Linked DNA regions of Homo sapiens. The protein of the gene in region 1 purifies or fractionates together with the protein of each later gene. This does not show direct contact. Each region holds a gene or a part of one and is shown in the gene's direction. Other genes may lie near its edges.

Region 1 (4,082 bases):
TTCTGGATACCCAGAAGTGATCATGCCTGGTTCTAGATACCCAGTAGTGATTGTGTTTCCTCTAGATACCCAGTAGGTATTGTGCTTGCTTCTAGAGATGTAGTAGTAGCTGGACTTAGCTCTAGATACCCAGTGCTCATCTCTAGACTGGGCTGAGATCAGTGTCTCCCTTGAAGGGTTATTGTAAGGATGAAAAAAGATAATGCGTTTAAAGCACTTGGTGTAGTAGGTGGTCTTTTTAAAAGTGTGAATAAATACTAGTTCTTATTATTTCTGTGGATATCCAACAGCCACATAATTGGGCCCCAAAGCCATGAAGAAGGAAGAGGAAATGTCTTAAAGGTTGTCGATGGACAGTGTTTGCTGAACATCAAAATCACTTTCCAGGTATTACCTCTGATTTGCTCTACCAACTCCACACCCCACCTGCAGCCACATAACCTTCCATGATCACGGCCATGCACAACACACCATGTCCCCCAGGCAAGGGGACCTTAGAAACATAACCAGGCTTGAGACAGCACTCTGCACCGGTGTCTTGGAAATGCTCTTAAGAGTGTATGGCTGAGTTAGGGAACCAGGATTTCAAAGTAGAAAGGGAGAATCTACCCAAGCCCATAGAAATCCTGAATCCACTCCTTTCTCAGCAACAAGCACTGGCCTGGGAGTCAGCCACTTATGCACCAACCCCACTCTGCCCCTAATTAAATGCATGACTTTGAAAATTCCCCTCATTCTTCTGAGCCCCAATTCAGTGATTGGTGCAATCACAGGCTTGGCTACAGTGACCCATTCATTGCAGGCATGGTGAGTCTCTCAATCCCTCTCATTTCCACTAGAATCTAACTGTTGGGATCTATGACCCAGTCAGCATAGCAGGCCTGTGGGGAGCTCTCAGGTTCAAGCATATGCCCCCCCTAATCTACAAGAAATTAGCTGCAGAAAACCAAGGAATAGAACCTGGAAAAAGAGAGGGTTTGCTAGAGCTGTCCCTTTCCCTGTCTCTGGAATGCCAACAATAGGGAGGCTCTTTGGTCTTGTCTCTCAGGAGTGCCCATGCCATTCCAGGAAAATGATGGCCCAGCTGGTGGTGTAAGGCTTGGGGGGCAGCGAGTGGGCATCGTGGTGAAAGCCTCGGGATCAGGGAGCTGCGTCTGCAGGCAGGCCTGCTGGCCGGAAACCTGCCAGGAAAGGAAGGGGCTGTCCCGGGGCGGGGCCAGGGAGGGGTGGAGACAGGGCCGGCTGTGGTCAGTGACAAATGCTGGCTGCAATCCAGCCAGCCCTCTGCCCTTTCTGAGCCCGAGGGACTGCCACCTCCACTGTGTGCACACTCAGCTACGGGACACAGTAAGTACCGATGCCGCAAAGGGAGGTCCCCAGGGCTTGAGGGCATGTGAGGCGAGGAGAGGATGGACTCTAGAGTTTTGGGGTTTGGGGTCTGCAAAGCTCTGAAGGAGTCTCATCTCTGCAGTTTCAGGTATCCAAGGCAGCAGAGGTGAGTGGGTCCCCCGAGCTCTGTGACCTTATGCTCCACACTAACTCTGGCAGAGCCTCCGTTTCCTCATAGGTAAGATGGAAATAATTACACCCTCTGGATGGTGTGACTGAAGATTAAATACAGCGGGTGCTCTCACTCAGCACATCTGGCCATGTCTGCAGACACATTTGGTTGCCACAACTGGAAGGGGGGTGGGGGTTAGTGACATCTAGAGGCCAGCGATGCTGCTGATGATCCCACAATGCCCAGGACAAGATCACAAAGCATCATCCTGTTCAAAAGGTCAACAGGATCAAGGTTGAGAGACCCTGAAATAAGGCCATGGGGACAAAATGTCGGCTGGATAGGAGGTGCTCAGTAAGTGGCAGCTTCTGTTGTTTTCTGTGCCTGGAGTCTTGGGCCTTTAGAAATCAGGAACAATGATCCAATATTATCGGCTTCCGTGAGATAAGGGCATCTTGCCTGGAGGCTGCCACCCAGGCCGGTCATGGCAGCTGCTCATGAAGGACAGTAACAATTTGGCAGTTTGTTAAATGAACAAAATGTAGAAATAAAGTAAGCAGAATTTTTAGTTTTTCTGAAGGTAGGGCTTTTGGCCAGATATGCAGCAATAAAAGAGCAAACTGCTTCCTTGGGCCAGTGTCCTTGCTCATAGATCAGGAAACCGAAGCATGAAGAATACAGGCGGCAGATGCCTGAAGGTAACGGACGTGTTCATGGTGCTGACGGTGATGATAAGTGACAGATGTAGACTCATCTCCAAACTTGTCAGGTTATAGACATTAAATATGTGCAACTTTATGAATAGCAGTCATGTCTCAATCAAGTGGTTTTAATAAAGAAATAATAGGAAGCCAGAGCTGAGAGACAGGGAGGGAGTTGTTCAAGGTCACCTGGCAAGTGAGCTCCGGGGCGGGGAGAGCTCAGCTCTGGGTGGCCAGCCTGGCTTTTTCCACTGCTCAGTGTCCAGCTTGCAGTCTAATGTCTCTGAATTACAGAGAAGGAGACTGGTCAGTTCATTCATTCATTCATTCTACAAAGGTTTATGGAGCATCTCTCCTGACTGCAAGCTCTTGAAGGTGAGAGCAGCACAAATGAGGGTCCCATGGAGAGAGAGGCCGGAATGAAAAATGTCAATGACAAATGCATATATAAAGGCACATGTGTAATTGAAAGAGCTTTGAGAGAAAGAGTCAAGGGACTGTTCCAGAGAATAGCCATGGAAGGGGAAAAGGTCCAGTGTGATAAGGTATTGCAAAGAAGTGACATTTAAGCAAAAGCCTGCAGCCTATGCAGAAGTTGGCCTCAGTGAGAAAGGTTGGGGGAGGGTTCCAGTAGAGAGGGAAGGTATGCAAAGGCCCAGAGTTAGGACAGAACTTGCTGTGTTTGAGAAACTGGGAAAAGAAGAGTGAGCCTGGGGGTATCACGTGATCCAGGGCAGAGCAGGTCCAGGCCAGGTGCAGCCAGGTCACAGCAGCCCTAGTGGGTTAGAGCACAAATCAAAGTTTAGCATTTATCTGAAACACAGGAGTTGGCCATGAGTTTCTTAGGCGAGGAAGCGCTGTGACCATATTTATGATTGAAGGAGATTCTTTTATATGCTGTATATAGAAAGCCTTTCAGGGCAAAGAAAGGAAGCTACTGGGGTAGCCCTGGGGGAGATGAAGGGAGCTTCCACTGGGGGCAGTAAGAAAGCCAGGGAAAGGCGGCAGCTTTAAGACCTGTTTTGGAGATAGAACGGACAAGCTTTGCTGATGGGCTGGAGTGGAACAGGAAGTCAAGATTACTTCTTCTGGGAAGTTCTGTTCCTGGGTCTTTAGGATCTAGAGGAAGCTGTGACTTTGTCTCTCATCTCTGCCTGGGCTCCAAGCCTCACATCCCTTTTTGTAATTAGAAGATATTGGACAGACCGTCCTCACTAACACAATTCCCACAGCTGAGTCCAGGGTAGAACTGGGCAGGACTTCACTGCCCAACACGGGAAATATCAGTCAGCAGATTTGGGTTTCGGGGATGGTGGTGGGCCAGCGGGAAGACTGACCAGGGCCTACCCATCACATCCCCACCACCTCCCACCTCAATTCACCTTGGCCTGAGATGACAGGTGAACATGACTGATCCTCTCTCTTCCCTCTGCAGAAACACTAAAGCCAGGGACCAGGAGAGGGGCAGCCCAACCAAGCTTTCAAAGCACTCAGTAGAGGCTGGTCTGGGGGATGGGAGGCTCCCAGGGCTTCACCTGTCTCTGTCAAAGCCATGTATTTCCACCAGAGGCCCAAGAGTGCGATGGCAAACCCTGGATTTGAAACTAAGAAACGTAAAACAAGCACTGAGGACTCCACTGCCTCTTGAGTGACCTCTCTGACCCTCTGTTTCTTCTGCACTGTTAGGATAATGATACTAACTCCATGTTGTTGTAGAGAAGTATAAATGAGCTAATACAGGTGAACCGCCTGGGGATACCAGGAGGTGAGGTCGAGGAGGAACGAGGTATCACTCCTCAGAGCCACTCAGAGACAGGCTGTGCACGAGTCAGAGGAACCTGGATTTTAATTCCGGTTCCATCACTCAGTAGCTGAAACAA
Region 2 (3,500 bases), on another chromosome or scaffold:
GCAGTGGCGCGATCTTGGCTCACTGCAACCTCCACCTCCTGGGCTCAAGCAATTCTTGTGCCTCAGCCTCCCAAGTCGCTGGCACTACAAGCACCCGCCACCACACTTGGCTCATGTTTGTATTTTTAGTAGAGACGAGGTTGCACCATGTTGGCCAGGCTGGCCTCGAACTCCTGACCTCAGGTGATCCACCCGCCTCAGCCTCCCAAAGTGCTGGATGACAGAAGTGAGCCACCATGCCTGGCCCTTCTGTTACATTTCTTATATTCTTGCATGGAGAAAGGATTGGGGGGGATTGTGAGGGCATCCATCTGTCCATCTATGTGGCTGGCCTTGGGGGCTAGATTTCTTCTGGGGAGGACTAATTTTTTTACCCTTCTCCCCCAGATCTCATTTCAGGCCCCAATTGAAACTTGGGGTGGGCAGGGCAGCTTTAGTGCGTAGCAGGGGAGGAACTGACCCTCTCTCCCCTTTTCCCCTCTTGTTCCTCTCAGGGTCGGCACTCTTCACCCTCCCGAGCCCTGCCCGTCTCGGCCCCATGCCCCCACCAGTCAGCCCCGGGCCACAGGCAGTGAGCAGGCACCTGGGAGCCGAGGCCCTGTGACCAGGCCAAGGAGACGGGCGCTCCAGGGTCCCAGCCACCTGTCCCCCCCATGGAGCTGAGGCCCTGGTTGCTATGGGTGGTAGCAGCAACAGGAACCTTGGTCCTGCTAGCAGCTGATGCTCAGGGCCAGAAGGTCTTCACCAACACGTGGGCTGTGCGCATCCCTGGAGGCCCAGCGGTGGCCAACAGTGTGGCACGGAAGCATGGGTTCCTCAACCTGGGCCAGGTAGGTGTTCCCCCACAGGACACTGCCAGGGGGTGGGACCAGAGAAGACAGGGATTCTGGGAGCAGGAGCTGTTGGCCTTGTTTGCTCAGGGGCATCTGGGTAGCCGGCATGTTCTGGGTGGCCATGAGCAAAGCACAGGTGGTTCAGGCAAGCAGCATATCCCAGTGAGAGTGAGTCCTCATGGTCCCCGCATTTTGCTGGGTCCCGGACAGGGAGCAGATGCCCCGCACCCCCGACCGTGGCGAGCCTCCCATGAAGCCGTTGTCCACCCCCGTCCCCCGCCTCCCGGGGACTGACAGATGGAAAGCCCAGCTCAGTCTCCCTGCTCTATTGCAGATCTTCGGGGACTATTACCACTTCTGGCATCGAGGAGTGACGAAGCGGTCCCTGTCGCCTCACCGCCCGCGGCACAGCCGGCTGCAGAGGGAGCCTCAAGTGAGTGTGGCCCCAGCCCCCTCCTGCTGCCACCCTCCCCCTCCTGCTCTCAGGAGCCCCTCTCGCCTCCTGCTCCACCCACACCATCTCTCCCTCACTCCCCCACAGGTACAGTGGCTGGAACAGCAGGTGGCAAAGCGACGGACTAAACGGGACGTGTACCAGGAGCCCACAGACCCCAAGTTTCCTCAGCAGTGGTACCTGGTACGTGGCCTTCTTCGCTGCTGGGACCTCCTCCCCAGATGCACCATCCACCCACTATGAGCTCTTGGATGGAGGAGGCTGTCTTCGAGGCCTCCTCTGATTCGTTTCCTTTCCTCCTGCTGGGCAGTCTCTCCTTGGCCCATCCTAATAAGCAAGCCTGGGGGTGGCCCTCCCAGAGTCCTCTACATTCCCATGGAGTCCAGACAGCCAGTGGCGGCCTTTCAGGAGCAGGGATGGTACAGGAGGAGGTTTTACGGGGGCAAAGGGATTCTTCAAGATGCTCCTAGCCTCACAAAACCAATCATGTCTCATAAGTGATGGGGTGGGTGTCTCCACAGTCTGGTGTCACTCAGCGGGACCTGAATGTGAAGGCGGCCTGGGCGCAGGGCTACACAGGGCACGGCATTGTGGTCTCCATTCTGGACGATGGCATCGAGAAGAACCACCCGGACTTGGCAGGCAATTATGTGAGGAAGTCGGGGAGGGAGGCCGTGATCCCTGCTGAGGTGTGTCTAGAGGCTGTCTTGTTCTATCAGTGAGGTCAGCCTTCTCCTGATGGTGGCCAAATCCTTCTTAGGATCCTGGGGCCAGTTTTGATGTCAATGACCAGGACCCTGACCCCCAGCCTCGGTACACACAGATGAATGACAACAGGTAAGAAGTGGCAGGCCCCGGTCTCTGCCTCCCTTCTCCTTTCTTCCACTAAGGAACAGGGCTGAGCCTGGGTGAGATGTGCCTTGCCTAAAAGGCTGAGGCTTTTCCCACAGTCCTGGCCCACCTGGGGCTCTGAGGGAGGGCTCGGTCAGAGTGGAGATGGCCACAGGCCCAGTGGAGTGTGGGAGATGGGGGCTGGGTACTCAGGGGATGATGGGTGTCGGATGTGCGGATCCCTCGTGCTCCTCAGGCCACATCTGCCGGGCCCTGTTCACCCCATTTGTTCTACTCATGCTACGTGCTTGGCCCTGGCAGGCACGGCACACGGTGTGCGGGGGAAGTGGCTGCGGTGGCCAACAACGGTGTCTGTGGTGTAGGTGTGGCCTACAACGCCCGCATTGGAGGTGAGTGTGGGCCTGGGCCACCCTGTCTTCAGGAGGGCCCTTCAGTGGAATTTTTCCCGCCCACTTCCCATCTGGCCAATGCCTGCCACTTTCCCACTGTGGATCCTTTGATCACGTGGCTGTTCCATGGAGGGTTCCCAAAGGGTCAAAGACTGAAAGAGCTGGACCCCTGTGGAGTGAGGGTTTCCTAGCAGGAGTCTCCTGAAATCCTCACGACCCACTGTGAGTCCTCACGTGGCAGATCCTTGATCACCAGGCTCTTTTGGGAACCAGAGACTCTTTCTAGTCCTGAATGTGTGGTTGGGGGCAGGAGGTGTTCTCTTTTTCCTTCTCTGGGTCTTGTCTTTGAAAGGCAGAGGCAAACAGGTAGTTGGGGGTTCAGGGTTTCTCAGCATCAGCCTCCACCCTTCCCTTACTCATCCCCTGGGGTGCAGGGCTGGGTGTGCTCCTTGGGGTGGGGGCCCTGACAGCTGGACCCATGCAGCATCCCTCTTCGTGCCCCCCCTTCACGGCCAGGGGTGCGCATGCTGGATGGCGAGGTGACAGATGCAGTGGAGGCACGCTCGCTGGGCCTGAACCCCAACCACATCCACATCTACAGTGCCAGCTGGGGCCCCGAGGATGACGGCAAGACAGTGGATGGGCCAGCCCGCCTCGCCGAGGAGGCCTTCTTCCGTGGGGTTAGCCAGGTGAGGTGGGGATCTGTCCAGCCCCTGCGGGCAGGTTGGGTGCTGTCTTCCGTACCTATCTTGTGTTTTTTGGTTTGTTTTATTTATTCTCATGTTTAACTTTACACAAAGCATGTTTATTGAAACATTAAGGGACAGAAGAAGAGTAGAGTGCATATACCACTTGGACTTGCCTAATTAAAAAACACATTTTTTTTAGAAATGAGGTCTTGCTGTGTTACCCAGGCTGGTCTCAAACTCCTGGCCTCAAGCGATCCTCCCGCCTTGGCCTCTTGGTCTGATT
Region 3 (3,500 bases), on another chromosome or scaffold:
AGCTGTCCTGTACGCCCGCCACGTGCTTGCATCCCTGCTCGCCGAGTGGCCTAGCCACGTGCCAGTGAGCGAGGACATCCTGGAGCTCAGTGGCCCTGCCCATATGACCTACATTTTGGATATGTTCATGCAGCTGGAAGAAAAGCATGAGTGGGAGAAGGTAGTTATGCAGACTGAGCTTGTGCTCACCCACCAGGTTCTTCCTCTGCCCCACAGGCTTCCTCCAGTGAGTGCTTCCTGGAGCGAGGCTACCTGTGTGGCTGTGCAGCTCCCTGACAGGTGTGAATGCAGCAAAGGTAGGGTCACTGTATCCTCTCCCAAGGATTGGGCTAGTGAGGAACTCAGGGGCCCTGAGCGCGATTTCCAGCTGAACCAGAAAGCTTTGTCGCCATCTTCCCAGTTTCCAAGTGCAGAAATCTTGAGGCACATTCGGTAGCTCCTTTTTGATCCTGTCCCTCACCCACCTTCACACACACACACGCAGTCCATGAGGAAGTTCATTTGGCCTCTCAGCCTTGCTTTGTCCATCTGAGAACACCACCAGACCTCGAGGTCTTTTCCCGGCCTTGCAGCCCTGCAGGTGCTGGCAGGCTTGCTCTAGCATATCTATCTTTCGGAAGGGACAGAGGGAGCCACCCTGCCTCTACTAGGCCCTTGCATAGGCGTGTCCTCCCACAGTTCTTGCCACCTAGAGCTCCCAACCCTGCACCTCACTCCAGGCATCGATTACATTGTGTGGTCATTATTTATCCATAGGCCAATCCACCTGCTTGGCTGGGGACTCCTTCAAGGACCAGGACCCTTTATGATTGGTTCAGTTAGTTCTTTCAGACCACCTCTAAGTAGCATCATTCTGAAAGGACTGCAGTGTCCTGATTGACACCAAGAGCCTGGTCAAGTGAGAGGTGGCTGGTGGAGTTGGTTTTGGGTGGTGGAGTCACAGAGGCTCGTCCTAGGTCTAAGATGATGCCAGCACCTTTGGGTGGAGCTTGGGTTGAAGTAAACTGTCCCTTCTTCCTGATGCCACTTGCAGGCCCTGACCTTATCTGTCTGCTTCCCACCAGATCCTGCAGAAAGTGCTCCAGGGCTGCCGAGAGGACATGCTGGGGACCATGGCCCTGGCTGCATGCCAGTTCATGGAGGAGCCAGGAATGGAGGTGCAAGTGAGGGAGTCGAAACACCCGTATAACAACAACACCAACTTCGAGGTAAGCCTGGGGCCGGCAGGCCCCATAAGAGCGACTGAGCCGCAGAGACCTCGTCAGCCCCTCCGTGCTCAGCCCCTCCATGCTCAGCCCCTCTGTGGCTCTCTCCCGCTGGACAGCAGAGACCTGTCCAGGAAAGTGCTTCCTTGAACAAACTGCAGTCTGCCTCCCTGAGGCCAGGGATTCTGTACAAGCAAGTCTTCTCTTCTCCGGACTTTTCTTGTTTTAATAGAAGAAAATGGGCCACCTAGCCCTGGAGGAGAGCTTTACTTTCCCTGCGGCAGGCTCCTCAGAGTGAGTCCTTGGCTTCACAGTGAGACAGTGAGTCTGAATGTGGTCCAGGTTGGACCCTCACTCTTCAGCTGCCACCTCATGACCTGCCCCCACCGTGGATACTACAGCCCCTTTTTAAAATTTCCCAGAACTGAATCAGAGTCTCATCTTTTCCATCCTTAACTTTGTGCCTGGGCAGGGAGGTAGGCATTTTGATGAGGCAGGAATGGGGCAGCCTCCGTTATTCTCATTGACTTAAGGCCATGTAGTCCCTTTAGCACTTTTTTTTGAGACGGAGTCTCACTCTGTCGCCCAGGCTGCAGTGCAGTGGTGTGATCTCGGCTCACTGCAACCTCCACCTCCCGAATTCAAGTGATTCTCATGCCTCAGCCTCCCTAGTAGCAGGAATAAAGGCACCTGCCACCATGCCCAGCTAATTTTTGTATTTTTAGTAGAGACGGGGTTTCACCATATTGGCCAGGCTGGTCTCTAACTCCTGACCTCAGGTGATCCACCCGCCTTGGCCTCCCAGAGTGCTGGGATTACAGGCGTGAGCCACCTCACCTGGCCCCCATTAGCGCTTTTAAAAATGTTGGAGAGAAAACTGAAATGTTGGAGTTGCCCAGGCATCTACTTCTGAGTGGAAGGCACCTGCAGCAGCGAAGGTGGATGATGAAAACCGATTTAGAACTGGGTTATTGGCCAGCTGAGATTTTGTTTTTCAGAAGTATAACCTGTCTTTCTTCCAAGTCTCTTCTCTTGTCATGTTCCTGGGCTCCAGCCCCACTCCCTTGGTCCCATACAGGCACATGTGGTCAGCCACCAGGTTCGATCCCAAAGAGGTCTTGTCTTCTCCACTGACCCTGGACACCCGTTGCCCTTCTCTGGGGTTCCTTTTGCTGCTACTTTCTGATTTCCTCACTTTTGCCTCAGCCCAGCCTTGCTCCACACCAGCTGTCAGTGATGCTACACTGTGCAAGCCTCACCAAAGCTTTCCAGGGTTTTCCCTGTTGTCCAGAGTCTGAGTGCCTCATTTTCATGCCCAGGGCCTTCAGTGTCTGCCCCTGCCAGTCTCTCTGGAGTCAGGTCTTGTCCCTGTTCCTGCTTCCCAAGCATACGTGCCCATGTAGCACACCCTTTACTCCAAACACGCCAAGCTCCTTGCCATTCCCTGAACATGCTAGACCTTCACAGGGCTGTTACCCTGTCTGAAATGCACCCCATGCACTCAGGTCCACCTTGTCTCCCACTCCCGCCTTCTCCTAACAGGGTCCTCCTGTCCTCTTCACTCTTCACAGCAGCCTGACACTCTTTCTCTGGGGCCCCGTGTTGCCTGCCCCGCTGTGCCTCCCTCGCACCATATTTGCAGTCTGTGCATGCTCCTCGCCCTAGCTGGACTCTGCACTCCTGGAGGCCAGGGCTGTGGTTCACTCATTCTCACACACCCGGGTCCAGCCACAGGACTCGGCATGGGACAGCTGCAGTCAGTGTCTAGTGAGCAGCATCGACAGATGTGTTCTCCATTTCCCCTCCCTAGGATAAAGTTCACATTCCTGGTGCCATCTACCTCTCAATCAAATTCGACTCTCAGTGCAACACAGAGGAGGGCTGTGACGAGTTAGCCATGTCCAGCAGCAGTGACTTCCAGCAAGACCGACACAGCTTCAGCGGGTCTCAGCAGAAGTGGAAAGATTTTGAACTTCCAGGTAGTGAAACAAATACTCGATTAGATAGGTTCTTCACAGGCAGTGTTTAAACTTAATATTGAGAAGGGAACTTACTGGAGAATGTTGAAACCCAACACCACTGCTGCCATTCCCTGTTGCTTCAGTTCCTGATGGGCCTCTGATCCTTGTGTGCCTAGGAGACACTCTGTATTACCGCTTCACCTCCGACATGAGCAACACCGAGTGGGGCTACAGATTCACCGTGACGGCCGGACACCTGGGGCGGTTCCAGACAGGTGTGTGCTCTGGGCTTTGCGTTCACACCATCTGCCTGCCAGGGACACTCCATGGCTGT
Region 4 (2,510 bases), on another chromosome or scaffold:
GCCCCCCTTGCACAGCCCCCCCAGGGACAGCGTCTCCGTGGTGCTGGGCCAGCACTTCTTCAACCGCACGACGGACGTGACGCAGACCTTCGGCATCGAGAAGTACATCCCGTACACCCTGTACTCGGTGTTCAACCCCAGCGACCACGACCTCGGTGAGCTCCGGCGTGTCGTGGCTGCACTCTGGGCAGGTGGGCCCTGTGCTCCCCAGGCCAGGCCCAGACAGGGGCAGGAGCTGGGCAGACATGTGGTGCGGGGGAAGCTGGGGGCAGGGCAGGGAGGACAGGGCACCGCTCCCTTCTGGATCTCCCAGGCTGCCCTGTGGACCCCACTGGCTACCCTCCCTCCACCACGGGCCCCGACAGCCTCCCGTTCAGCCCGCACACCACAGGCTGACCCTGGCCACTCTTCTGATCAGTCCTGATCCGGCTGAAGAAGAAAGGGGACCGCTGTGCCACACGCTCGCAGTTCGTGCAGCCCATCTGCCTGCCCGAGCCCGGCAGCACCTTCCCCGCAGGACACAAGTGCCAGATTGCGGGCTGGGGCCACTTGGATGAGAGTGAGTTGGGAGGGGGGCGCCCAGCGCCCCGCCAGGGTGGACAGTGGCCAGCCACAGTGTGGGTGTCACGCTGAGGGCATTGTGTCCCACAGACGTGAGCGGCTACTCCAGCTCCCTGCGGGAGGCCCTGGTCCCCCTGGTCGCCGACCACAAGTGCAGCAGCCCTGAGGTCTACGGCGCCGACATCAGCCCCAACATGCTCTGTGCCGGCTACTTCGACTGCAAGTCCGACGCCTGCCAGGTGAGCTGGTGCCCGCCCCACCAGGACCCGACTGGTGGGGGCTCAGCTGGTCCTGAGTCTCCGAGATGCTTGCCCCTGGGGAGCCCAGAGCCTGGCGGCACCCCAACCTGGCAGGGCCAGCCAGGGACCCCTGGGCAGGGAGCACACTTACTGTCGGTGGCCAGCACCCCAGGGCCACCCAGAGCCCTGCCGGAAGGGCATCCTCCTCACACAGAAGGGGAGACCCAGGCTCTGAGAGGGGCCTGGGGTCCCACAGAGCCCGGACAGTTCCTGGCTGTCCAGCCCAAGGCAGTGCTTTCCGTGTGACACTAGGCACCAAAGGCCCCTTTGCCCCGAGTTCTCTCAAGCCAGCTCTTCAACCTTCAATAAGTTCTTCAACCTTCAATAAGCCCAACAGCCCAACCACGTCCTGGGCTCTGCAGGCCTGTGTGCTCAGGCGGCACGGCAACCCTGGCATGCGACGGCTCTCTTATGCCCCATTTTATAGCTGGGGAGACTGAGCCCCAGGCAGTCAATTCACTCTTCCAAGGCCACAAAGCCCAGGAGTGGTAGAGTGGGTAGGGCTTGTCACTGGACCTCGATAAGGGAAGTCAGGATGGTTTCCTGGAGGAGGGAGTGTTTGCACTGGTCCTGAGTGATGCGTAGGAGTTTTCCAGGGAGTGAAGAAGTCATTTCAGGAGGTGCTGGGACACAGGGTGGCTGTGTGGTCCACACAGGGTTCATGCTGGTGGGGAGAGGGGGACCGTGGCTTCAGGAAGGGGAATAACGTGGTTGGATGCCCTGGCCCAGCCAGTGCTGCCCCCAGGGAATGAGACACCTTTTCATGAGGTTCAGGAGAGTGGATCAGCTCCCTTGCTCAGAAATGCCTTTGTCCTCTGTCCCCAAGCTGCCACTTGGGGGAGAGGGGGGTCCCTGAACCAGGCCCCTGGGAGGGTGGCTCTGACCAACGTCTCTGCCCAGGGGGACTCAGGGGGGCCCCTGGCCTGCGAGAAGAACGGCGTGGCTTACCTCTACGGCATCATCAGCTGGGGTGACGGCTGCGGGCGGCTCCACAAGCCGGGGGTCTACACCCGCGTGGCCAACTATGTGGACTGGATCAACGACCGGATACGGCCTCCCAGGCGGCTTGTGGCTCCCTCCTGACCCTCCAGCGGGACACCCTGGTTCCCACCATTCCCTGCCTTGCTGACAATAAAGATATTTCCAAGAACCCGGCCCACGCTGCCTGGCCCCTGCCTGCGGCCCCGCCTTCCCCTCCAGGCCATGACTGGGGCCCAGGTCTATGCGCAGCAGGCCTCAGGCTGCCGTTCTGGAGCGCACACAGTCCTCAGTGGAGACGGAGCCTGTGGCCCCACAGCGGGGTCTGGCCCCACGGCCCAGAGAGTTGTCAGGGGATGAGGTCTGGGCCTCTCCAGGCCCCAGCAGAGTCCAGCCCCCTCCCAGGCCAGCCCCAGGCCGGGGCTCAGCACCTGGGTTGTCCCAGGGCAGGAAGTGGAAACCAAGTCCAGGCCCCCAGGCGTGGAGGGGTCCGATCCGCGTGGTGCACGGAGTATTGAACCTGAAGAAGAAAGAGCGGCCCCACGGGAACACCCGCAGGCCGTCGTTGGTCTTCCAGATGGCAGCCCGCCTGCCTGAGCCTGGGCTGCACTTCCCGGGAGGGAGGAGGCCACAGGCTGCCTCTGTGGGGGCTGAGGGAGGGAGGGGCCCATG

The links. Proteins that work in one complex are often made in the same cells at the same time.
Region 2: the proteins of SERPINA5 (region 1) and FURIN purify together in Homo sapiens (affinity purification with mass spectrometry; 2 studies listed by BioGRID and IntAct, with this or other methods). This does not show direct contact.
Region 3: the proteins of SERPINA5 (region 1) and ZZEF1 purify together in Homo sapiens (affinity purification with mass spectrometry; 2 studies listed by BioGRID and IntAct, with this or other methods). This does not show direct contact.
Region 4: the proteins of SERPINA5 (region 1) and HGFAC purify together in Homo sapiens (affinity purification with mass spectrometry; 2 studies listed by BioGRID and IntAct, with this or other methods). This does not show direct contact.

Annotation. Positions count from the first base shown.
Region 1 is NC_000014.9:94,580,144-94,584,225, forward strand, and holds the start of SERPINA5 (plasma serine protease inhibitor preproprotein), read left to right. Parts: upstream 1-1,282; 5' UTR 1,283-1,347; intron 1,348-1,471; 5' UTR 1,472-1,567; intron 1,568-4,082. UniProt on the Homo sapiens protein: Heparin-dependent serine protease inhibitor acting in body fluids and secretions. Inactivates serine proteases by binding irreversibly to their serine activation site. Involved in the regulation of intravascular and extravascular proteolytic activities.
Region 2 is NC_000015.10:90,875,088-90,878,587, forward strand, and holds part of FURIN (furin isoform 1 preproprotein), read left to right. Parts: intron 1-494; 5' UTR 495-653; coding exon 654-830; intron 831-1,167; coding exon 1,168-1,266; intron 1,267-1,374; coding exon 1,375-1,470; intron 1,471-1,808; coding exon 1,809-1,937; intron 1,938-2,047; coding exon 2,048-2,124; intron 2,125-2,439; coding exon 2,440-2,528; intron 2,529-3,044; coding exon 3,045-3,217; intron 3,218-3,500. UniProt on the Homo sapiens protein: Ubiquitous endoprotease within constitutive secretory pathways capable of cleavage at the RX(K/R)R consensus motif. Mediates processing of TGFB1, an essential step in TGF-beta-1 activation.
Region 3 is NC_000017.11:4,014,031-4,017,530, reverse strand, and holds part of ZZEF1 (zinc finger ZZ-type and EF-hand domain-containing protein 1), read left to right. Parts: coding exon 1-160; intron 161-756; exon of another isoform or gene 757-898; intron 899-1,064; coding exon 1,065-1,208; intron 1,209-3,015; coding exon 3,016-3,184; intron 3,185-3,342; coding exon 3,343-3,441; intron 3,442-3,500. UniProt on the Homo sapiens protein: Histone H3 reader which may act as a transcriptional coactivator for KLF6 and KLF9 transcription factors.
Region 4 is NC_000004.12:3,447,477-3,449,986, forward strand, and holds the end of HGFAC (hepatocyte growth factor activator serine protease isoform 2 preproprotein), read left to right. Parts: intron 1-15; coding exon 16-155; intron 156-418; coding exon 419-559; intron 560-651; coding exon 652-800; intron 801-1,760; coding exon 1,761-1,943; 3' UTR 1,944-2,010; downstream 2,011-2,510. UniProt on the Homo sapiens protein: Serine protease that hydrolyzes the inactive zymogen hepatocyte growth factor (HGFsc) to an activated disulfide-linked heterodimer, then initiating hepatocyte growth factor receptor signaling pathway.